6 separate regions of the Homo sapiens genome follow, and regions 1, 2, 3, 5 and 6 are each reported to be linked to region 4. Evidence: microRNA targets listed by miRTarBase, many of them from high-throughput screens and not tested one by one. Region 4 holds a microRNA gene; each other region holds the end of a gene's coding sequence.
The links. Region 4 holds the annotated microRNA hsa-miR-5186 (AGAGAUUGGUAGAAAUCAGGU, at 1,608-1,628, shown strand). A microRNA usually pairs through its seed, bases 2 to 8, with sites in the 3' UTR of a target mRNA and lowers its output. Matches are read on the target gene's strand: a 7mer-m8 pairs with bases 2 to 8, a 7mer-A1 pairs with bases 2 to 7 and ends in A, and an 8mer does both.

Region 1: the mRNA of ZBTB18 is a reported target of hsa-miR-5186. Seed matches in the 3' UTR shown: 7mer-A1 at 3,596-3,602.
Region 2: the mRNA of CNNM2 is a reported target of hsa-miR-5186. The part of its 3' UTR that is shown has no 7-base or 8-base seed match.
Region 3: miRTarBase lists GALNT6 as a target of hsa-miR-5186. Seed matches in the 3' UTR shown: 7mer-A1 at 2,301-2,307.
Region 5: miRTarBase lists S100A16 as a target of hsa-miR-5186. The part of its 3' UTR that is shown has no 7-base or 8-base seed match.
Region 6: miRTarBase lists NUDT19 as a target of hsa-miR-5186. Seed matches in the 3' UTR shown: 7mer-m8 at 2,840-2,846, 7mer-m8 at 2,683-2,689, 8mer at 1,914-1,921 and 7mer-m8 at 1,899-1,905.

What each region holds. Positions count from the first base shown.
Region 1 is chr1:244,055,105-244,059,119 of GRCh38, reverse strand. It overlaps ZBTB18 (zinc finger and BTB domain containing 18), which reads right to left. Exons shown (of 2, transcript NM_205768.3): 2 at 1,644-4,015. The coding sequence ends at 3,750. Among named protein-coding and RNA genes, the nearest start is that of ZBTB18, 5.8 kb to the right of the region's middle.
Region 2 is chr10:103,075,598-103,079,583 of GRCh38, forward strand. CNNM2 (cyclin and CBS domain divalent metal cation transport mediator 2) reads left to right here. Exons shown (of 8, transcript NM_017649.5): 7 at 489-673; 8 at 1,374-3,986. The coding sequence ends at 1,583. Among named protein-coding and RNA genes, the nearest start is that of NT5C2, 120 kb to the right of the region's middle.
Region 3 is chr12:51,351,194-51,355,245 of GRCh38, reverse strand. GALNT6 (polypeptide N-acetylgalactosaminyltransferase 6) reads left to right here. Exons shown (of 12, transcript NM_007210.4): 12 at 754-3,994. The coding sequence ends at 867. Among named protein-coding and RNA genes, the nearest start is that of CELA1, 6.5 kb to the right of the region's middle.
Region 4 is chr3:151,564,532-151,567,531 of GRCh38, reverse strand. MIR5186 (microRNA 5186) reads left to right here and starts at 1,537; the gene lies at 1,537-1,656. All of the region lies in intron 1 of LINC02066 (long intergenic non-protein coding RNA 2066), which reads right to left. It also overlaps a transcript of IGSF10 not described here.
Region 5 is chr1:153,604,127-153,608,178 of GRCh38, forward strand. S100A16 (S100 calcium binding protein A16) reads right to left here. Exons shown (of 3, transcript NM_080388.3): 2 at 3,873-4,051; 3 at 2,760-3,566. The coding sequence starts at 4,025. The coding sequence ends at 3,408. Among named protein-coding and RNA genes, the nearest start is that of S100A16, 7.0 kb to the right of the region's middle. RefSeq lists an enhancer at 904-1,859.
Region 6 is chr19:32,711,092-32,715,143 of GRCh38, reverse strand. NUDT19 (nudix hydrolase 19) reads right to left here. Exons shown (of 3, transcript NM_001105570.2): 3 at 1,352-3,392. The coding sequence ends at 3,187. Among named protein-coding and RNA genes, the nearest start is that of TDRD12, 6.6 kb to the left of the region's middle.

The DNA.
Region 1 (4,015 bases), not on the chromosome of region 4:
CAATCCAGTGCATAATTGATTATCTAAAGGAAAAAGAAGTTTTCTAAAGTAAATAAAACTACATATTTAAAATATACTATGTATCAGCCAGATGTCAAAGGAGGGATCAGTTTTAATGGTTTCCAACATGATCACATGACAAATTAATTTCCTTTTTTAAATGTGGCAAATAAATGATTCCTTCATTTCACTTACCAAATGTGGCAGTTTGTGTAATTAATATTCTGTTCTAGTTTTGCAAAGAATGTTTTAAGAAGTTACTTCTTCCAAATCATGTCAAAATATTATTTTTATAAGTATATCCAGTTAAGATTGTTAAGATAATGTTCCTTACTTAAAATTAGATGTTAGTCCACAGAACTAAATTCAAGTAAACGCTCAGCATCTTCAGGAAGCTTTGAGATACTCTGACCAGTTACTATAGGAACTGAAAATAAAAAGTCCCCCTCCCTCCCCTTTTTGTAAGCTTGTAACTGCTCAAGAAATTATTCTATGGGGGTCAAATGTACATTCCCCTTTCATGTGAAACAGTATTTGGCTGGTTAAAACCAAGGATGAGTTACATACTTTAAAAATTGTTTTAGAAAAAAAAAAAAAAAGGCAGGGGGATGGAAATTAGGATTCCAAATTATGTTATTATACTTCATGACAAAATCCCTGTGGCTTCCTATCCAAAGCCACCAGGTAGTTGGTAAATGGTCCATTTTCAAACTTCAGACCTTATATCCCACTTCTGTAGGTTAAAAATATTGACCTTACTATAGGCCACTGAATATAAACATAGTTTGACAGTAATAATGTAAAATTTCATAGTCATATTTCTATTTAAGGTTGGAAGTTAGAGACAAGCACGGTTTACAAAACCTCTCCATGCCTGCACCTGACTGCTTGAGCTTAGGGTTGTTTGTGACAATTCCTCTACAGTATCATCCGCATGTGTGAGTGTTCTGTCAATTCCCTACCCAGGTCAACCAGCAATGTTTCTCACCCTGACATGTACCCAACTAGATAAGCATGAAGTTGGGACAATCATAAAAAGTAGGGAACAGAGTTCTTTTAATGGTCCATGTATTTAATTACATGTTTAAATTAAAACTTGAGAATTAAAACCTAGAAACTTTCGAGTTCTCCCAGCAACAAAAAGGATGTATATAGCTAATCGTGAACAATTGCATGCCTGCTAATTCAATTGCCTAGAATTCCAGTCATTAGCCAAGCAGTCTTCCAAATTAAAACATCCGGTCTCCTTCAATTTTCCACTTAAACCAGAACACAGGAGAATAGATTTGACCGATCAACTTAGGATAAAATTACACACGAAAAGTGACTTACGGTATATGGATTAGTAGTTGTACAGTGTATTTTTAACAACCTATGCTGCCACGTAGTTTCATGATTCATGAGTTTCTAGGGAATTACCTCAACATTCTTGATGTAGATTGTGAAAATGGGTCGCATTTTTTAAATGTGCATTTAGTATCTTCTTAAGTGACTAGAATGCTTACACATTTTCCACTCGAGTGATTTAAGGCATTCTAATAATTTCATAAACTCCGAATAGAATTGATATTAAAGATGCCAGGTATGATACATATTTAGAATCTATACACTACATAATCACAATAAAAAATACACACAAGAAATTCTCAGTTCATATAATTTATTGCAGTTAGCACACAGTTTAAAAATTCACCAACACACCAATAGTACAAAACTAAACAGCATTATAAGTTATTCCCCCTCAGGAAAATAAAACATACTATGATTGTCAAAGCTAGATGTCAGTCTAAGTTTTAGAACAAAGGAAGAATGTGAAACTAAGAAAAGGAAAAAGCAATCACTCACAATGACCACAAAAAGAAAATCCAAAAGAAAGTCCGTTTTCTCACAGACATTGATTGTCTTCTCTAAATTAATAAAAATTATTTTAACATAAACTGTATTTTAAAAAAACTAGAAACTCTTCAAGTAACTAAAGATAATGCTCCAAGGCCATTTTCACAGCTTTTTTTGTTTGTTTGTTTGCTTTAAATGCCATTACAGCCAAATTAACACACATTTAACCAAATATTTCCAAAACAGTCCAGCAACACACAATGGAGTTTTCCATTCAGTATCTTAAGCACAAAAATAGGCTATGTTTACAGTAGTTAAGGCGATCAAATTTTAAACAAAAGCAATTAAAAAAAAAAGGGAAAAACAGCAAACGTTTTCCATGCTACTCCCATAGACCTTATTTGTAAGTGCAAGACAGGAAAACAAACACTGTGCAAAATGCTTTTGCCTTGCGTGCTGGTCATTAAAACCACACGTTAGGCTGCAGCCTCTGCTGCCGCAATCCACATAGTCTACTAACCCCCTTCCCCATGTCAATCAAGGCAGTCCAGTCCTTTCAGCCTGGGGCTTTTTCAGTCCATAGAATCTTTTCATGAGTTGGGGGTGGAGGGTGGTGGTGGGGGGGGAGAGTAAGGGAGGGAGGGTAAGGAGGAAGGGGAGAAAAAGAAAAAGGGAGCAAACAAAAAAAAAGAGAGAACGACCTATTGTCAACTTGTGCAGTAGTTATTCTAAGAACGCTCAACTGGGTAAATGTGTACACCTAAACTCTGAGCTGGCATGGGTTTTGTGCAATTAGAAGTTTGTTATAAATGCACACTGCACATGCAAATCTTTAAGCTGTTTGTAAACATTTATATTTTCCTTGTTATGTAGCGAAGTTATCAATTTGCAGCTTAAGTTTTTATTCAGCTTAACAGTTTCAACTTAAAGACAGTGGGAAAGTCAATTTAAATTATATAAAATAAAAATAAAAACAGTGCATTTACGTTCTTCATAACACCAGTTTTTTTTTCCAAATGGTGTTATTTTTCTAAGGAAATTAAATAATTTTAAACTCACTCGTTAAAGTTATACAATGCAAACAAAGACAAAAAATATATTGAAACTCATGCATTTCTGTAGCGTTAATATTTACTTTTCAAGACTCAACTAAGAGCATCAACACAACCTGTCAAGTTCTTTGACACCCCCCCAGCCCATGTAATCAATTACAGTATACAATAACAGTAATTCACATTTTTAAACACACAGTTCAACACTGCTGAAGCTGCAATATCCTTTTTCATCCCAAGCAAACCTTCATAAGACAGTGTCCCAGTGATCCCAGTGTACTTTCAGCATTTCTCTCACTGGGAACTGTCAGAAAACCAGAAGTTGCCACAGAAAGTTTTAAGTCAACTGCTTGTTTAAAAATAGATAATCCAGCATTTCAGAAATTTTCCATTTGGGTCTAAAAGCATTCAGGTTTCCAACAGCCAGAAAAAATTCATGCAATTTGAGACATATAAAGAGGCTAATAAAACTGGAGGGAATTTCTACTTAAAAAAAAAAACAAAAAACAAAAAAACTTTGTTGGGGGGGAAAAAAGAGCTCAAAAGACAATGCAGTGTTGACAAAATTAAGCCATATGAAAGCATTTTGTGACAGGACGATTTGTTTAAAAGGTTCTTATTGGCTTACTTCCCCTATCCCCTCAAAGGAAAAACACCTCTCTATTCTGACTTGCTCTAAAGTTTCTTTTATCAGAATGCTAAATTAGTGAGATTCTCATGCTATTCTAAAGTGCAAAAACAAGTTAATATCCCAACTTTTTATTTCCAGGAAACAAGACTGCTTTTAGACCGTACCACAACTATATAGAGATCTATTTATATATATGTATATATATATATATTATTTATATATATATAAAATTATTTCCAAAGTTCTTGAGAGCTATCTTCTAAGGTCCAGTCTCTGACAGTAGGCAAGCTCAGTGCTTCGCTTTTGACCGACAAGGAGTTCACCAACTCACAGTGGAACTTGCGAATGTGTCTGTACAGGTCCCCGGACTGCGTGAACCTGCGCTCGCACCACTTGCAGGCGTGCGGCTTCTCGCGGGTGTGCACCACGGCATGGCGGCTCAGGTTGTGCGAGTACTGGAAGCTCTTGCCGCACTGGGTGCATGTGTAGGGCTTCT
Region 2 (3,986 bases), not on the chromosome of region 4:
GTATGGTATGAGCAGATGAGTATTTTGATCCCTTTATAATACATACTGATTTATTAATATTCTCAAGAGTCCCTTGTTTTTACTTCGGGCAAAGTAATGAAGTGCTGTCCTCTGCGTAGCCTACCTTTGATATCAAGCAGCTTCTGCATGTTGGGCCTTGGCCCAACCTCGCCTGAGCATCTCACAGTACCCGGGAATGTTCCTCACGAAGGCACACAGTGCAGGGTTTTTGCTGTTAGAGACTTGGGAGGATTGTGTCTGTCACATACACAGGGCCAAGCAGCTGAGATGGACATAGCCTGCTGGTACAGGGAAGCCCGCGAGTCCGCCATACATAGGATACCCTCTGGCATACTGTGCGGCCGAGACATCTGGAATCAGTTGGCTGGGCTTGTGTGGCATTTAGTATTTTTTATTTTGGAAAATAACTGGTTTTATTGGCTGTATCTACTTCACTTAAACAGTTGGATTTTTCCCTCCTTTTCCAGGTGAAAATAAGTCCCCTCCTCGCCCATGTGGCTTGAATCACTCAGACTCTCTCAGTCGAAGCGACCGGATTGACGCCGTCACACCAACACTGGGGAGCAGCAATAACCAGCTCAATTCTTCGCTCCTCCAAGTCTACATCCCCGATTACTCGGTGCGAGCCCTTTCGGATCTGCAGTTTGTTAAGGTGAGAGACGTGAGTGCAGTGTGGCTGGACCTGGCAGTTAGTTGTCAACTTCCCTGGCAAATTGTCTGTTTTGCTCCTTGCCCTCCTCAGAACTCTCCCTTTGTCACTTTGTGGGTGCCCTGCCTTCCATTCTCAACTACACACCCTGTCTTCGTCTGCTGTGCCCAAGCCTCAGGTTGAGAAAAACGTTGATCTTCTTGGTTCTATCCAATGAGCTGCCAAATCAAATGTGGCTCTTTCAGGGAATGGGAGCCAGAGATCCTGGAAAAAAGAGTAGCCCCTTTTCAAAGAGCTCCTGGGTGCGTGGCTCCCTGCCTGGCCCTGGGAAGGCTGAGGTCAGGAGACTTGGAGGGTTGCGGGGAAGGCTCCACCTCTGTCTTCTGCCGGGCAGTCAGAGTACTCATCTTGGTCTGAAATAAAGATGACTTTTGGAGAACAAGCCAGCTTTAGCTGGGAGAAACCAGTCTCTATTTTCTAGTCCCTAAAATTTTGAGACAATATTTGGAAGTGGGTTACATCAGTAAGAACTGACTTGTTCACCAAAGTCAACTTGAACTTGACAAAGTGGCTCACTGCGCTCAAGTGTGATTTTCTCCTAGAGAGGCTGCTGTGGGCCTGTCGGGATTGAACGTGTGGAGATCAGAGAACCTAAAAATAAGCATTATCTTGGTTTGTTTTCTGTGCCATCTTCTGGCCCCAGATCTCAAGACAGCAATACCAAAATGCCTTGATGGCATCCCGGATGGACAAAACCCCCCAGTCTTCAGACAGTGAAAACACTAAAATCGAATTGACTCTTACGGAGCTGCATGACGGGTTGCCAGACGAGACAGCCAACCTGCTCAACGAACAGAACTGTGTGACGCACAGTAAGGCCAACCACAGCCTGCACAACGAAGGCGCCATCTAGGCCGCGCTGGCTGCACCCGCCCAGGCCCGCACCCGCCCAGTCCCGAGGGCCCGGCCCTGTCTGCCCATGACTTCACTGGTGTGAGCTTGTCCGCCATGCTGTACCCTGCAACATCCTGAGACCAAAGACCTTGTGCCCTTCCCAGGAGCCGCGGAGGAGGACAGTGAGGGAGGAATGGAAACGAGAGATGTGAAGTTGGCAGCCGGGGCATGGCGTTCAAGATTTTGGAGATGAACTGATTCCGCCCAAATAGAATCATGTTTATTTTTTCAGCTCTCCCTTTTATCATTATTCACACTCCTCTGCCCTCGATTTGCATGAAGTTGAAAATTGTTGCGATTTATTTTTTCAAGAGATCATGTTTTTAAAGTGTCTTTTGCAGAGTTTTAAGTTGTTCTGTCTGAACTCTGCTGTGATCCCATGATGTGACCCTGATGGGCTGGACTTGCCCCTCCGGTAGCCTTCCTTGGCCCTCCCAGCGAGGGGCACCCTTCCTCTGTGCCCCAGTGGGCATCACCGTCGATCTCGCTGGCTGAATGAAGAAGACCGTGTTACTGCAGAACCTGCCAAGTCTGTCATCACTGTGGGGTGTAGCCTGCCTCAGAGGGACCTGCAATCACCTCTCTGAGCTCAGTGGTATTTTGAGAATTTAATGTTTAACTGTACCCCTTTCCCTCAGGAAGATTTAACATTTGCTTGGGAATGTGATTTTGCTCCCACCCTAAGGAATTTTTATCACCAAAATGAATGTTAATGAATTTAAAACCCATGGTTTATCATTGGCAAGAGGCAAGTTGACTTCATCCTGTCATTCCAGCCTGGGGTCTGCCAGCCAGCCCTCCTCCCCGACCCAGCGCCTAAGCTCACAGAGTGTCGTCGCCCACCTCCCTGGTCCTTGCTCTTGTTAACCCAAGATGCTGCTACACAGATGCCAAATGGAAATCTTCCACAGGGCTTTTTCAGTAAACACGTGATGTGGAGTGCAAGCTCCTCCCCTTCCCACTAGAACATACTTTAACAGAAAACGAGTCGGACCTTCTAGCTGCACTCTGTACTGTGTGCCGAGAAGGCATTTCTAGACCCGTGTTTTTAAAGGAGGGAACTTTGGGGATTGCCAGCCCCTGCTCCTCCTCCCAGGGAGCCAACTGTCCCTCCTCCCCTGTCCCTGGGCCCATGGGGCCCGGCAGTGGCTGTGTCCCCTGCCTGAGGGCTCTGTGCCTCCTGCCTCAGATGCGGCCTGTGCCAGAGAGGCTGCCTGTACAGCCAGGGTCAGTTTGGCCCCAAACAGGGATTCAGAAACCAAATGTGTGTTGTGGCCATTTTATGTGTGTCTCCGTCTTATTTTAATACCAAATTCATCATGTAGTGAAATTATGTCAGGAGGTATATGAGTGACTGAATTCTTAACTATAGCTTATCTGTGTTTTGTTAGCCCGAGGGATATGTGCAGGTTGTTGGCGCTATTCATGCACTGAAATGAAATCATACTGACCAGTGTACACACAAGATTATCAGTGCCCGCCGCATCCATCACTAGGAAAGGAGAGAGCGTTTTCTGTTTAGGCTCACTGCGCAAAGGGAGGCCTTGGCTAAGTGGCAGTTTTCTTCTCCCTACTCCAGGTAGGAAGTCTGTTCAGCCACGGCTGGGCTGTGTGCGGGGCAGGGAGCGTGGCTGAGGAGCAGACAGCAGCGGGCCGGGCTGGCTGCCTGGTGAGCAGTTTGGTGCCTCGGGTGTTGTGCATGCCCGGCTCAGTATTTCCTCTGGGATGCCAGTCCTGGAGTGTCTTCCTCAGAAGGTGCCGTGTCCCTTAGTGGGGGGAAGTACTGATCTCACTTGGTGTAGAGGGTCACAGGGACCCCCCGAGGGTGCTGAGTGGCCTGCTACTGGCACGCAACCTGCCCCCGTGGGATGAAGCCCCACCGCGTAGCTTGACCTTAGAGGGGACCCCACTCTAAGCATCCTTTTTTTTAAACAGAGCCATCTAGATACAAAAGTCAGTTTCTTAAGATGCCTCTCACTGAGCACAACACCAGTGTGATGAGTGTATAAAGATGAGGGGTCCTTGCAACAAAGCAAAGCGTAGCCCATGCTGGAAGAGGGCATCTATCCCCCTCTTCGGGTCTGCGCAGTGCTGGCCTTCCCTGAGCTGTGGGGAGCCAAGCCTGCCTAGCCCAGCTTCTCTGGCCTCAGGAACTCTGCCCTGTCAACCTATCTGGGCTCACGTCTGCTTCTCCACACACAGTCTCTCGGGGATGCCTTGCTACTGGGAGAGCCTCTGGAATCAGAGCTAGTGTGTTGGTGCCCTTTTCAGAGCTCTGCTGTTCCTTTATAAATCCTAAAGAACTGAGTCTGGGGAGAGGAGAGGGGATGCCAGCTGCTGCCTCTGACTTCAGGGAGAAGCA
Region 3 (4,052 bases), not on the chromosome of region 4:
CCCAATTAGAAGAAGGTGAAGAGTCATTCATAGTTCCTGCTTGTCCTCTGTGTCCTAGGCTCAAAGCTAGGCACTCACATGCCTGGGTCCAGTTAATCTTTCAGAGGCTCTTTCCAAGCAGGAATAGTCACTGTTTCTACAGATGAGCTGGAGCCGGAGGAAGCCCAGCATGTCTGTGACTGGCCCAAGACCCATCACTAGTAAATGGCAGGCCTGGGATTTAGCCCCAGATGGGTCTGACTTGAAAGCACGGGCTCTTTCCATTACACCACACTGCTCCAGGATATGCCATGTAACCGCCACCATGCTGAGCTCAAGCCAGCACCCCAAGTGAGCCTCCCTACTCCACCCCAGCTTAGGAAAGAGGAACCTAACCTGGAGGCTGCAGGGAAGGGAGCAGTCTAAACATAATCCAAGGCAGAAAATTGGAGGTGGAGCAGTGGCCCTGGGTCTTTGAGCCTGGCCATCTGGGGGTGCGGGAGGCCCTGAAAGCATTTTTCTCTCAGCCCATGGTCTTGTCTTTCACCATTTCATCCACTCAGTCTGAAGCTAGGGATGGGGATTTGGCACCAGATAGAGGTGGGAACTCAGGAATGTGTCTCATGAGAGGGCAGGAAAGGAATGGGGAAGTGTCCTCTTTGTGCCTTGTGGGGTTCCCTTGGCTTTTGTCAATTGCACCCCATCGCATTGTCCCTGGTAGCACCGTTAAGAGGTCTGTGGCCCAGACTGACCTTTTGCTTTGTCATCTTTTAGGATCAGCTCATCAGGAACTCAGGATCTGGTACCTGCCTGACATCCCAGGACAAAAAGCCAGCCATGGCCCCCTGCAATCCCAGTGACCCCCATCAGTTGTGGCTCTTTGTCTAGGACCCAGATCATCCCCAGAGAGAGCCCCCACAAGCTCCTCAGGAAACAGGATTGCTGATGTCTGGGAACCTGATCACCAGCTTCTCTGGAGGCCGTAAAGATGGATTTCTAAACCCACTGGGTGGCAAGGCAGGACCTTCCTAATCCTTGCAACAACATTGGGCCCATTTTCTTTCCTTCACACCGATGGAAGAGACCATTAGGACATATATTTAGCCTAGCGTTTTCCTGTTCTAGAAATAGAGGCTCCCAAAGTAGGGAAGGCAGCTGGGGGAGGGTTCAGGGCAGCAATGCTGAGTTCAAGAAAAGTACTTCAGGCTGGGCACAGTGGCTCATGCCTGAAATCCTAGCACTTTGGGAAGACAATGTGGGAGAATGGCTTGAGCCCAGGAGTTCAAGACCGGCCTGAGCAACATAGTGAGGATCCCATCTCTACGCCCACCCTCCCCCCGGCAAAAAAAAAAAGCTGGGTATGGTGGCTTATGCCTGTAGTCGCAGCTACTCAGAAGGCTGAGGTGGGAGGATTGCTTGTTCCCCGGAGGTTGAAGCTACAGTGAGCCTTGATTGTGTCACTGCACTCCAGCCTGGGCAACAGGTAAGACTCTGTCTCAAAAAAAAACAAAAAAGAAGAAGAAAAGTACTTCTACAGCCATGTCCTATTCCTTGATCATCCAAAGCACCTGCAGAGTCCAGTGAAATGATATATTCTGGCTGGGCACAGTGGCTCACACCTGTAATCCTAGCACTTTGGGAGGCCAAGGCAGGTGGATCACCTGAGGTCAGAAGTTTGAAACCAGCCTGGACTACATGGTGAAACTCCATCTCTACTAAAAGTACAAAAATTAGCTGGGCATGATGGCACGCACCTGCAGTCCCAGCTACTTGGGAGGCTGAGGCAGGAGAATCACTCGAACCCAGGAGGCAGAGGTTGCAGTGAGCCAAGACAGCACCATTGCACCCCAGCCTGAGCAACAAGAGCGAAACTCCATCTCAGGAAAAAAAAAAAAAAAAAAAGTATATTCTAACAGACAGATCAGAGGTCTAAGAGATCCTCCCTTGCTATTATTACCTGAAGTCTGTAGAACTGTTTACAGATATCTCCTTGACAGGTGTCCTTTATCTTACTTTATCTGTACAGTAATCCTGTGAGAAAGACAGGACAGAAACCACTGTGCCTATTTTACAGATACGAAAACTGAGACACAGGTAAAGGGGCTTGTCTGTAGTCCCATAGCTAGCAGATGGCTGGAGCCAAGACTGAGGCTCGTTCTTCAATGCTGAGCCAGGGCTCCTTCCGCTGCACCACAAGAACGCTAGACCACTCGCCACCAGCCTTCTCATTCCCTCTTCCTCCATTCTAATCATTTCTAGCTGGCTGGCCTCCACAGAGCATAGGAAAACAGCCAGGGCCGGGCACGGTGGCTCATGCCTGTAATCTCAACACTCTGGGAGGCCGAGCCGGGTGGATAACCTGAGGTCAGGAATTCGAGACCAGCCTGGCCAACATGGTAAAACCCCATCTCTACTAAAAATATAAAAATTAGCCAGGCATGGTGGCGCACACCTGTAATCCCAGCTACTCAAGAGGCTGAGGCAGGAGAATTGCTTAAATCTGGGAGGCGGAAGTTGCAGTGAGCCAAGATCGCGCCACTGAACTCCAGCCTAGGCAACAAGAGCAAAACTCCATCTCCAAAAAAAAGAAAGGAAAAACAGGGCCAGGTAGCCATTGTGGAGAGAGCACACTTAGGAATCCTGGGATGTTAGTGTTAAAAGAAAGCTCCTGGAGCCAGTGATTCTCAGGTTTGTCCCAGAACCCTTTTTTCTAAGCCCCATATAAAAGGTAGATTAAAAAAACAAAGTAGCATGAGTGAAATTGAGAGAGGGACAGGTAATGCCTTCCAGCCCCTAACTTCTAACAATCTGGAAGCACAACGTGAAAATCACGTAGCCCAACCCTATCATTTTCATATTATGAAACTGAGTCCAGGTAAGTGAATCTGTCCAAGGTCACCCAGCAAGGTATCAGTAGCCCTGAGGGTAAGGACTCTGATAAGGCTCGGGAGGGTCCTGGAAAGCCTGAGGCGGCAGGAAGAGTGTGCAGAGTTGAGCGTGTCTGGAAGGCTGATCCACTGCTGGGCCCACATCAAAGCCCCCATGGGGAGCAGACCCGACTGCACATGGCTCTTTTGCTGGAAGAAGAGCATGGCTGCGCAGAGGACTAAAATTTCATCTGGGAAGGCTTCTTTTGACTGTCAGTAGCAGGATGTCACCAGATGAGGGTGCTATGGGACCACAGCTGTCTTTGTTCCCATTGCAACTCAACCCTGCGGGAGGCCGCCTACATCCCTGAGAGCCTTCTGGAGCCTACAGAGGAGACATTGGCCAGCCAAAAGGAAAGGAGTGGCCAGGGTACGACCTGGAGTAGGGAAGGGAAAAAGTTCCCGGAAAGAAGAGAATTGGATGAGAGGTCTCAGTGGAAATAAAGGTTTTCTGGCATTGGTCAAGGAAACTCGCGTTGTGTTCTCTTACCTGTGTTGTCCCTTAGCTGAATCAGTTGATTTGGGCTATGAAGAACCACACACATCTGAAAAGTTCTGTTACAGCCACTGTCTCATGTCCCCAAACATTCTCTGGCCCTAAATCTAGCTTATGTATTGTGTCAAGCACGTGGAGACGTGAGACGTCAAACGAGGTCCTGTCCCCGTGGAACTCACACGCTAAATGTAAGCAAATCATAGCAAGCCTGGAGATGCTCCAAGAGGTGCTGGATGAGTTAGAAGGAGCAATTCCTTCCACTTAGGGAATCAGATAAGGCCTCACAAAGATGGCAATGTTTGACCTAAGACCTCGGAAGATGAGTCCTCAGATGGGAAGGGCTCAATAAGCAGAGTTGTTACACAGGCAGCAGCCTGGCAGGAGCAAAGCCACAGAGGACATGTGGCCCCAGTGGGTCTGAGAAACCCAGAGGACATTGGGGTGAGGGAGTGACTGGTGTAGAAGCTGGAAGATCAGAGTTACATCATGAATTTCAGGGGCCCTAGGCACTTTAGCCTTCACGGAGCTCTTGCTCCATTCAAAAAAAAATTAATGTTATGACTATGTTGGTATAAAGATGAATGTAATCCAGGCTGATTGGATTTACTTTATTTCTTCTGGTTTTAAAAGAAGCTAAAACATTTCTATGG
Region 4 (3,000 bases):
TCCCTCCAGATCTGTGAGGCCCAAGATGCCAGAGCATCAGGAATACAGAAAATAAGAAAATAAAGTTCAAGTAGGTTTACAGTGAAAGTTTTTCTTGTTAGTTCCCAACTATACACCCTAGCACGAGTCCCAGAATTTCTACAGTCCTGGTTTACAGATGATACTCTCAGCAGAGGCAGAGTGACTAGGCTTCTCAATTTATTCATATGGATAATAAAGTGGCTCAAATAAAATGAATATTTATTATAAGGCCATAAAGCCATTTCACAAAAAATGAAGCAGAGGTGAATCTCCCAGGAATAGGAGCTGAGATCCAGGGAACCACTGAAGATAGAAGTTTCTCTCTCTTTGTCTCAACTGCATATAATCTTCCTCATCTATGATCATTGGCTACTGTCCACAGACAGGATCAAAATGCCCAGGGCCCAAGTCTACAGACCCATTTACTTCATAGGCCCACATCCATTTGACTAGAGACTCTGTGTCTCAGAAAATACATTTGCCTACAGGCTAGCCAACAGATTGACAGCCACCTGGATAGGTGTTGGTCCCTGGTCCAATCAGGGAAAAGGCTATGACATTAGACGAACTTGAACAGAGAGACTCATCTCTTCAGCAAGGGTGAGCATGGAGCTGACAGTGCTGTAGATAGGCCAGGCAGGCACCCTGAAACTACACCACCTCTGTTAGCTAAGAAATATAATTCTTCTTGACATTGAAGAAATTGCTAAAAATTGTGACAGGACTTGTGGCTGTTAACCTATTCAGAGGGAAAGATGGTAGTACCGAATGCTGCTCACTAAATATTCCCAGCTCTCTGCCCTCCGGCACATAGCACTCTATGGCTCCCAGTGGTTGGTGGAGGCCATGTAACTATTCTGGCCAATGAACTGAAAGCACAAACAATGTATGCCACTTTCCTGTTGAATGTTTATCTCTTGGCATGATTTCCTCTGAGCTCTCTTTGTCCCTGCCATGGTAGCATCCTCCTGATAGCGACTATTCTATCAGCCTGGGACCCAAAGCAGGGACAACACATGGGTTGTCAGAAGAACAAGAAGTCAACTTCCTTGTTAGCCACTGAGATTTGGAGTTTGTTATAGCATAACACAACCAATGCCAACTGGTTTAATAAATCCAAAAAGTTGTACTTATTAAGTAGAACCCAACAAATGCTATTAACTTTAATCATCCCTCAGTTCTGGGGAGAGCAGAGGAGACCTTATGCACTATCTTTTCTACTATTCATCTCAAATCTTTCCTAATCTATCATTTGTGGGGTAGGGTTTCACTTCCCTGCTTCCTAATTCATAAACTATCATGTTTATCATTATTTGGTCAGATTTCTGATTTTCTAGCTGATACCTCCCATTCTAATCCAAATTTGCTTTCTCCCCTCTGCCAGGGAGTTCTCATGACATGTAGCTAGGGCCTCACTTTGTGGCAATTTTATAAGCCTCTCATTAAACATTGGCACTGCCTCAGTTGCTTTCTGCACTGATTCTCCCAGGACTGGACCCCTGCCTACTCCCCAACTCAGCCAGCTTATGACTTGACCCTCTCACCTGATTTCTACCAACCTTTCCTCAGCTGATTTCTTTCTGGGGAGAGATTGGTAGAAATCAGGTGAGAGGGTCATGCCATAAGCTGGCTAACACTTTCATGCATTAATTAATACAGGAATCATAGCTATCATCTTAATCTATCACTCTCGTATCTATCTGATACTATGCATTAACGTTCTCAAAAGGCAAATTCCAACTAGAACAGTGTTTCTCAAATACCAATCAGTGGGCCAGAAGCAACAGAATTAGCTCAGTAACTCACTAGAACTCCAGGGTAGGTGCTTTAGTAGGTCTAAAAATATAAAGCAGAACATTTCTATGTTTGTTTGTTTTTATAACTTCCCCCAGGTGAGTCTGATGCACAAAAAAGTTTTGAACCCCTGGAACAGATCATTCTGTAGCTGCTTGAACTTCATAATTTGAACTATTTACCTCAACCTGGAGGCAGGCCTGGCTTTCTTGATCCCTTGTTTCAATTTTGACAATGTTCACCTTCTGCTCTGGCCAGGAGCTCCCAGGATGCCAGTAAACCAGACCTTACCACTCACCTCTGTATATAATGGCATCTCAAATTCCTTATTCACTTTTTGTACTTCTGGGTTACAAACATACTGGTGATTTTATATTATGATTTTTACAAATGGGTGAAATATGGTTTCTGGGCCTATAAAGTCAAGCACTAGATTCTAGATTCAAGGTCTCTCTACCAATTTGCCAAACCCCAGTGAAGTACTGCTTAAAGTTCTCAACTGGTCTTACCTCCTAACAATTGATAATTCACACAGCAATTGTCAAACCATCATATGAATTAACCAGTAAATCCCATTCTCTGCCAGTACTAGAGAGTTCTTTCAGAGTTTTTAGAGAGAAAGTATAGCATAATATAAGCCACAGATTCCAGAACCAGATTGCCTGACTGAAGTCCTAACTGCGCTGTTTATTAGCTGGTGATCTTGCACAAGTTACTTAGCTTGCCTCTGTCTCAGTTTTCTACTTCCTAGGCTTGTTACAAGAGTTAAAGGGACTGATACCTATAAGAAATCTTGTGCTTAGTATGTATTCAATGAACATTTAACCATTACCATGATTCTTACTTTTTAGTTATAGGCTATTTATTTACAACCACTTGTATATGAAACTTTCAACTGCACGCTTACCTTTGGGTACCTCTTGTAATTGATTCACCGGTAACTCACATGTCATTATGCTCTCTCATGCTAAAGCTCAGTCAGTAAGTAAATTGTTTCTTGGCCTCTAAGGACATGCATACCTCATTCAACTGCCGTAACCCAAATGCATGCAGATATCAAGCAAAGCAAACTGGTAAAAACTATGGCCAACTGGGGAACACAAACTTCATCTAAAAGGTCAGCCACTTCTCAGTCCAGCCTAATATTTCCATGCCTGAATGCAAACCCAATGCTTCCTTCTGTCT
Region 5 (4,052 bases), not on the chromosome of region 4:
AACTGGCCTCATACCTTGTCTACACAGTCTCTGGACAGGGTTCCTAATCTGTAGTCAGTAAAGAATGTCATTTTTTAACACGTCTGGGAGCTCCGAGTTTATCTTGGGACCTCAAGAGGAGAGGATCACCCAACTAACAGGTATTTGAGGTTTGTATCCTCAAATACAAACTTTAGGCTTTAATAGTCTTATCTGAAATTCCTTGTGAAACAGAGTTTCATCAAAGCCAATCAAAAGGCCTGTGTACAAATAACCATTCTTGCTGCACTTTATGCAAATAATCAGGGCAAGTATAAGACTACAGTTTATTCATAACTTGTTTTTACCAAGAACGAGGACTAGAGAGAAAAATTGTGCTCCAAAGCTTATCATACATTTTTTTGTTTTTTGTTTTTGTTTTCAAGCTTTTCGCCTACATTTTAGACTAACCCTGCTTATTCCTGTGAATCAAGCAGTGATCTCCTGCAGCTTGGAAGAAAAATTAAGGGATGGGTAATATAAAATCTGAATCAATATATTAGTTCTGGGCAATTATTCTGCAAATTCTACCAGGTAATAAAAGTGAGTAGGGTGCCCATAACCCAGAGGTTTCTTCGTTTAGGAAAATAAAACCAAGGAACTTCATAGACCCCCAAAGGGGAATTCTATATCTTGACAGGTAAAAGTTTAGATGGAAATTATCTACCACACCACACTTATGGAAATAGCTATACTCACTCTATTATTTGCAATAGGATTATACATGGTAGCACCTTCTAACTGAAATATTAAACAGAGAGTTTCCATTGCTGTCATATTTTGCTTAATCATTATCCTTATAGCAGGGATAATAGCTACTAATGAAAAGGAAGCATAAAAGTTTTACTACCACTGAATCTGCTAGGACTTTTTATTGGGTTTAGTGATGCAGTTTTCAATGAAACATGCTGCTTTCGGATTAATGCCTCTAGTTAAAAGAAAATCTACAAGTACTTAAAAATCAAATCAAAATTATTGATCCCCGAGTGGCTACAATGCCTCTTTAATAAATTCCAGTCTTCTTTATGGAATTGGTTAACCCCTTTATTAAGCCCTCTCTTGCTTATGTGTCTTGTATTGATATTTGGACCCTGTATACACAATACTATAACTCAAATTGTTTCTTCTCATCTAGAAGCAATCAAACTCCAAATGGTGCTGTAAACAGAACCACACATAGACACATCATTCTTCTGAGGACCCTTAGATTGACCCCAGGAGGAGCCCTAGCTGCTCTTCCCCATTCGACGCCCTTTTGCAACAAGAAGTAGCCAGAAGGAGTCGTCGCCCAAAACTCCCTAACAGCAGTTAGTGTGGCATCTCCACAGGGGGGAATGTTGTAGGAGTTATTAAGAAATTATTTTAGGCAGATAGAGAGGAAAATGGGTCCTTGGGTCCTTGGGAAGTTTTTTGTTTTGTTTCTTTTTCTTTTTTTTTGAGACGGAGTTTTGCTCTTGTCGCCCAGGCTGGAGTGCAATGGTGCGATCTTGGCTCACCACAACCTCCGCCTCCTGGGTTCAAGCGATTCTCTGGCCTCAGCCTCCCGAGTAGCTGGGATTACAGGCATGCGCCACCACGCCCGGCTAATTTTGTATTTTTAGTAGAGACGGGGTTTCTACATGTTGGTCAGGCTGGAGTTTTCATTTTTTTGAAGCATCTCCAGAAAAGTTTCTTGTAAAGCCCCGGCTCTTAGAGCCAGGTTGGCAACCTTTGATATGCAAATGCAAGCCCTTAGAAACTGGGTCCACCCAAACATGGTGATTCCCCCGGCCTTCTTGCCCTTTCCCCACATGTTCCTGGCAATGTGGCTGCCCTCACATATCCCCAGGTGTGTAGACCTGCATTTGCATATTAAAAGGCTAGGGTGGGGCAAGGTGCGGTGGCTCACGCCTGTAATCCCAACACTTTGGGAGGCCGAGGCGGGCGGATCACCTGAGGTCAGGAGTTCCAGACCAGCCTGACCAACATGGAGAAATCCCGTCTCTACTAAAAATACAACAAAAATAGCGGGGTATTGTGGCACATACCTGTATTCTCAACTACTCGGGAGGCTGAGGCAGGAGAATTGCTTGTACCCGGGAGGCGGAGCTTGCGGTGAGCCGAGATTGCACGCCATTGCACTCCAGCCTGGGCAACAAGAGTGAAACTCCATCTCAAAAAAAAAAAAAAAAAAAAAAAAGGCTAGGGTGTGAGGGCCAGCTTTTTCCGAGGGCTACGTGAATGACACGCATAGTCAAACCAATCCCCTGAGCCCTATACAAATCAGACTCCTCCTCCTCCAGCCTCTGTATATATACCTAGATGGTATCTGTGGCAGGTGGGGTTCCCTCTCTCAGCTTTGGGGCCTCCGTCCCTCTGTCTCTGTACAGGGGAGCTTCTTCCTTCTCCCTTCCGTCTTGCCCCTTCTTGCCTATTAAACTCTCCGCTCCAAAAAAAAAAAAAAAAAAAGACTAAGGGTCATGGTCCCTCTCTCGTGGAATTGCAGTGAGGACTAAACGGGACTTACAGTGTGCCTGGAAGTTGAATTTGAGTCTGAGTCTGGGCTAAAAGGGCCCAGAGATGGTGACCTAAGGCCTTTGGCCCTTTATGGAGGAGGATGGAGGGAGCTGCTGGCCCACAGCTGACAGTGCCTGTTGGAATTTAGGAGTTCTGGCTCCTTTCTTGCTCTGCCTTTGAGGTTCTTCTGTGAGATTCTCTCTTATCACAGGGCCCAAGGGCTAAGACCACCAAAGCATAAAACGTTTCCAAGGAGTGGGAAGGTTTTAATGAGCATCCCAGAGGGACCAGGGGATACAAACTCCAAATCCAGCCTTTATATCATCATTATTTCAAGCAACAGGAGGAGGCTCAGCCTTGCTTAGCTCATTCCCAGATGAAGAGGCAGCTGGAGGGAAGTCCCTGAAAGTGCCTCTCTACCCAGCAGAGGGGCTAAGGGAAAGTGGAGAGGTCTCTGCTGCTGCTGCTGCTGCTGCTGCTGCTGTTGCTGCTACCACTGCCACCAAGAGCAGGGAGACCTCAAGCACCAAGCTGACCTTTGGAGGTCAGGACGGACCCAGAATCAGGCAGGAATTTGGCAGGAACATCAGACATTGGAAGGTTAGATGAGACTGAACAGGTGAGAAAACTCTTAGGGTCCCCAGACAGCATTGAGATCTCACAGAGGGGCCCCAAGGGCCTGCGACTCCAGGAGCTGAGACCCCCCAGGGAGGGAGGTACCTCTAGACTGAGACACTCACAAAGGGACCCCAGTTCAGCAAGGGTCAGAGGAAGGTCTGGAGGGAGAAGAGAGTAAAGGGCCCTGGGTGGGCAGGAGGCTGAGGAGGGAGCCTGGGGAGAGCACCAGGGCGGGGCATCAGGCCAGTGCCTGGAAGGTGTGGCCAAAGGGGTCTCTAGCTGCTGCTCTGCTGCTCCTGCTCATGGATGAGTTTGGCGATGGGGCCGGTGATGCCGCCTATCAAGGTCCAGTACTCATCGAAGCTGATGCGCCCATCATGATTGGCATCCAGGTTCTGGATGAGCTTATCCGCAGCCTTCCGGTTCCCTGTGTCCTGGGGAGGAAGCAGGGTCAGCAATGCTGATGGTGGAAGCCCCAGAGAGACTCCAGGCAGGACCCTAGGCAGAGACCCAGGATCTGGCCTGCACAGCTGCTTCCCTTGGGAAATGCAAATATAGCCCTCACTGGCTAGGCCTAAGCATCCTGAGAAGACAGAGGCCTGGGGGTGTAGAAGACCCTGGAGTTAGCGGGGACACTGGAAGGATAGAGGCCTCAGCAGGGAAAGACACCCTCAGAGGCCAGAGGCTTGCAGGGGAGGGAAGGGGAGAGGGAGGCAAGGCCCTTGGGTGAGAGGCCTTACCGACAGCATGTGGTTCAGCTCTTTCTGGAGCATCTCGCGGAAGCTGCTCTTGCTGATCTTGTTCTTGACCAGGCTGTACTTAGACACATATTTGTAGAAGTTTTCCACCAGGACAATGACTGCCTTCTCCAGCTCCGTGTAGCAGTCTGACATCTCCCTGCTTCGCCTGCTGGCGGGGCC
Region 6 (4,052 bases), not on the chromosome of region 4:
GAGGCAGAGGTTGCAGTGAGCCAAAAGCACGCCACTGCACTCCAGCCTGGACAACAATGTGAGACTCCATCTCAAAACAAACAAACAAACAAACAAACAAACAAAAACAAAAAAAAGCATACATGAGGGAAACGTGGTGTGAAAACGATCTTTTCTATGAAGAAAAACTGGTCATATTACTTTATCATGACATCTTCTAATATCACCCACTGAGCCATGGCAACTCCAGTGAAGAGGGAGTTGACTGTGGCACTAACCAGCTGCGTGTCTCGGTTTTCTCACTGGCAAAATCATGGTGTTCAATGAGGTCCCTTCCAGCGGCAACATTCTAGTAATCTTTGAGAGTCAAAAGACAAAGCTAGGCTGGGCATGGTGGCTCATGCCTATAATCCCGGGCACCTTGGGAGGCTGAGGCGGGCAGATCACCTGAGGTCAGGAGTTCAAGACCAACCTGGCCAACATGGTGAAACTTTGTCTCTACTAAAAATATAAACATTAGCTGGGTGTGGTGGCGGGCGCCTATAGTCACAGCTACTTGGGAGGCTGAGGCACAAGAATTGCTTGAACGCAGGAGGTGAAGGTTGCAGTGAACTGAGATTGCACCACTGCACTCCAGCCTGGGCAGCAAAGTGAGACTCTATCTCAAAAAAATCAAAAGACAACAAAAATTTTTGTACACTTTGTTTTTGTTTTTGTTTTTTTGAGACAGTTTTCCTCTTGTCACCCAGGCTGGAGTGCAATCTGGGCTCACTGCAACCTCCACCTCCAGGTTCAAGCGATTCTCCTGCCTCAGCCTCCTGAGTAGCTGGAATTACAGGCCACCATGCCTGGCTAATTTTTGTGTATTGTTAGTAGATGGGGTTTCACCACATTAACCAGCCTGGTCTTGAACTCCTGACCTCAGGTGATCCGCCCACCTCAGCCTCCCAAAATGCTGGGATTATAGGCATAAGCCACTGCGCCCAGCCCAGCCAACTTTTTTTTTTTTTCCAATTGGACGTAATTTCCCATTTTTGTAGATTCAAAAGGCAGACAGAATAATAGTATCTGTGGTTCTCAAAATTTACATATTGGAACCATTTATTTAAAAAAAAAAAGATTTTACTTTAGATTGGGTGTCTCATCCTTGGTCAGGTAATTCTTTGCTATGGGTGAGACTGCGCATTGCAGGCTGTTCAGTTGCATCCCTGGCCTCTCCCTACTACTAGATGGTAGTAGCATACTCCCCCACCCACCCACTCTGCCCACAGTTTCAACAACCAAAAATGTTTCCAGACATAGCCAAATGTTCCCTAGGGCAAAAGTGCCCAGGCTGAGGACTGCTGTGCTAGATATAGTTCTCTAATCTGGATTTAATCATACACATAAACTTTATTCATCATTGTCTTTATGTTATAGTAGGAAAATTAAGGCATTTCATAAAATATGAAATCAATTGTACAATGCATGATACAGTCAAAGATCTGGACATGGAATTGGTGTCTTAACTATCATTTCTCACCTTTAATCAATAAACATTATTCCTCTTGAAAGATGATGAAAAATTACTCATATTAAATACAGTAAAAATAAACATCATTAATCAAACACTACATTTCTAACCTCTTTACATTCATTAACAGTGTGGAATACAAACAATGATGGTTTTTGTTATGGCTTTGTGTTTCTTTAAAATGCTAACTAGGCCAGGCGTGGTGGCTCAAGCCTGTAATCTCAGCACTTTGTGAGGCCAAGGTGGGCAGATCACCTCAGGTCAGAAGTTCGAGACCGGACTGGCCAACATGGTGAAACCCCGTCTCTACTAAAAATACAAAGATTAGCTGGGCATGGTAGTGGGTGCCTGTAATCCCAGCTACTCGGGAGGCTGAGGCAGAAAAATCGCTTGAACCTGGGAGGCGGAGATTGGAGTGAGCTGAGATTGCGCCATTGTACTCCAGCCTGGGCAACAGAGCGAGACTCTGTCTCAAAAATAAATAAAATAGAATAAAATAAAATAAAATGTTAACTAAAATCGATTTCTAATTTGGGAAACATAATAACTAATACCATTTGATTTTAAAAAGAATTGTATCTTAATCATTAAGCTAAAGACATAGCAAGAAAACAATGACATGGTCACTTGAAGGGTGTCTCAGCCAACTTTTCATCATCTAATAAGACACCCTTAAAGTAATTCCAGCAGAAAGTCTCAGAAATTCATTGATCAACCTCCAAAGCACATCAGGGAAGGTGCTAATACAGTGGATAACAAGAACAATAAACAGCAGAACATGTTATTTAAATTTTTGAGATAATAAAACAATACAGAAGTAGGAACCCTTGTGAAATTATGTTCTGGTTTTGGGTAATGAGATCATTAATACGTTATAAACTTTATACGTGTGGCACACTGTAAGGATTAAAGAATGGAATAAGCAAGCGAGCTCCCTAAAACACCTGATATAAGAAACACCATGCTGGGCACAGTGGCTCACGCCTGTAATCCCACACTTTGGGAGGCCAAGGCGGGCAGATCATGAGGTCAGGAGATCGAGACCAGCCTGGCCAACATGGTGAAACTCTGTTTCTACTAAAAATACAAAATTTAGTGGGGCATGGTGGTGCATGCCTATAGTCCCAGCTACTCAGGAGGCTGAGGCATGAGAATCGCTGGAACCTGGGAGGTGGAGGTTGCAGTGAGCCGAGATTGGGCCACTGCACTCCAGCCTGGGTTCTGGGCAAGAGTGAGACACTCTGTCTCAAAAAAAAAAAAAAAAAAAAAAAAAAAGGCTGGGTGTGGTGGCCCACACCTGTAATCCCAGCACTTTGGGAGGCCAAGGCGGGCGTATCACGAGGTCAAGAGATTGAGACCATCCTGGCTAACACGGTGAAAACCCGTCTCTACTAAAAATACAAAAAAAAATTAGCTGGGCATGGTGGCGGGCGCCTGTAGTCCCAGCTACTCGGGAGGCTGAGGCAGGAGAATGGCATGAACCCCTGAGGCAGAGCTTCCAGTGAGCCTATATCATGCCACTGCACTCCAGCCTGGGCGACAGATTGAGACTCTGTCTCGAAAAAAATAAAGAAATACTGAATTGCAGTAACTTTTATAGGCACAAACTTCCTTAAGTTTCAAGCAAATGAAAGTCAACCCTCATTATTCATGAGGACTTCAAGTAGGCCATTTTACAAACAAGCTTAAGCACCCTACAAATGGCTTTTTCTTACTACAGAGTTCTTAGGATAAACGTGTTTATACTTTGGCTGAACAGTCACGTGGATATCATAAAGGTGGCGATGGTATGTCACTATCCGGTGAAACTGCTTGCCTTCCTTCATGATTTCCTCAGTCTTTTTTTCAGTAGACATAAGATTTTCCAAAAAGTCTGAATCTTCTAAATATAGCTCATCACCTGAAAAAGGAAAAAATCTGATTTTATTTTTAAATACAAAATTATTTTTCACCATGGCAGAAAGTATAAAATTTTAATTCCATCGAGTATTATTTTATAAATCACTCCAATATACTAATGAAATACAAATCAGTATTTTTATCTATTTCATATGTTTGGAACTGAGATAGTTGTTAAATCAGTATTTATTTTGATCTATTTAATATGTTTGGAACTGAGATAGTTGTTAACTAATCTAATTCTATGAGCTTACCTCAATTTCTTTATTGTGTTTTTTTATCTGTTTTTTGAGATGGAGTCTCACTCTGTTGCCCAGGCTAGAGTGCAGTGGCGCGATCTCGGCTCATTGCAACCTCCACCTCTTGGGCTCAAGCAATTCTCATGCCTCAGCCTCCCGAGTAACTGGGATCACAGGTGTCTGCCACCACGCCTGGTTAATTTTTGTATTGTTAGTAGAGACAGGTTTCGCCATGTTTACCAGGCTGGTCTCAAACTCCTGACCTCAAATGATTCACCCACCTCGGCCTCCCAAAGTGCTGGGATTACAGGCGTGAACTACTGCGCCTGTCCTCTTTCTTGTGTTTTTAATATCCCCTTACAACACCCCAGCCAAGAGTTTTCTTTGGGCCCATAAACATCTGTGACTGGTATGTTTCCACT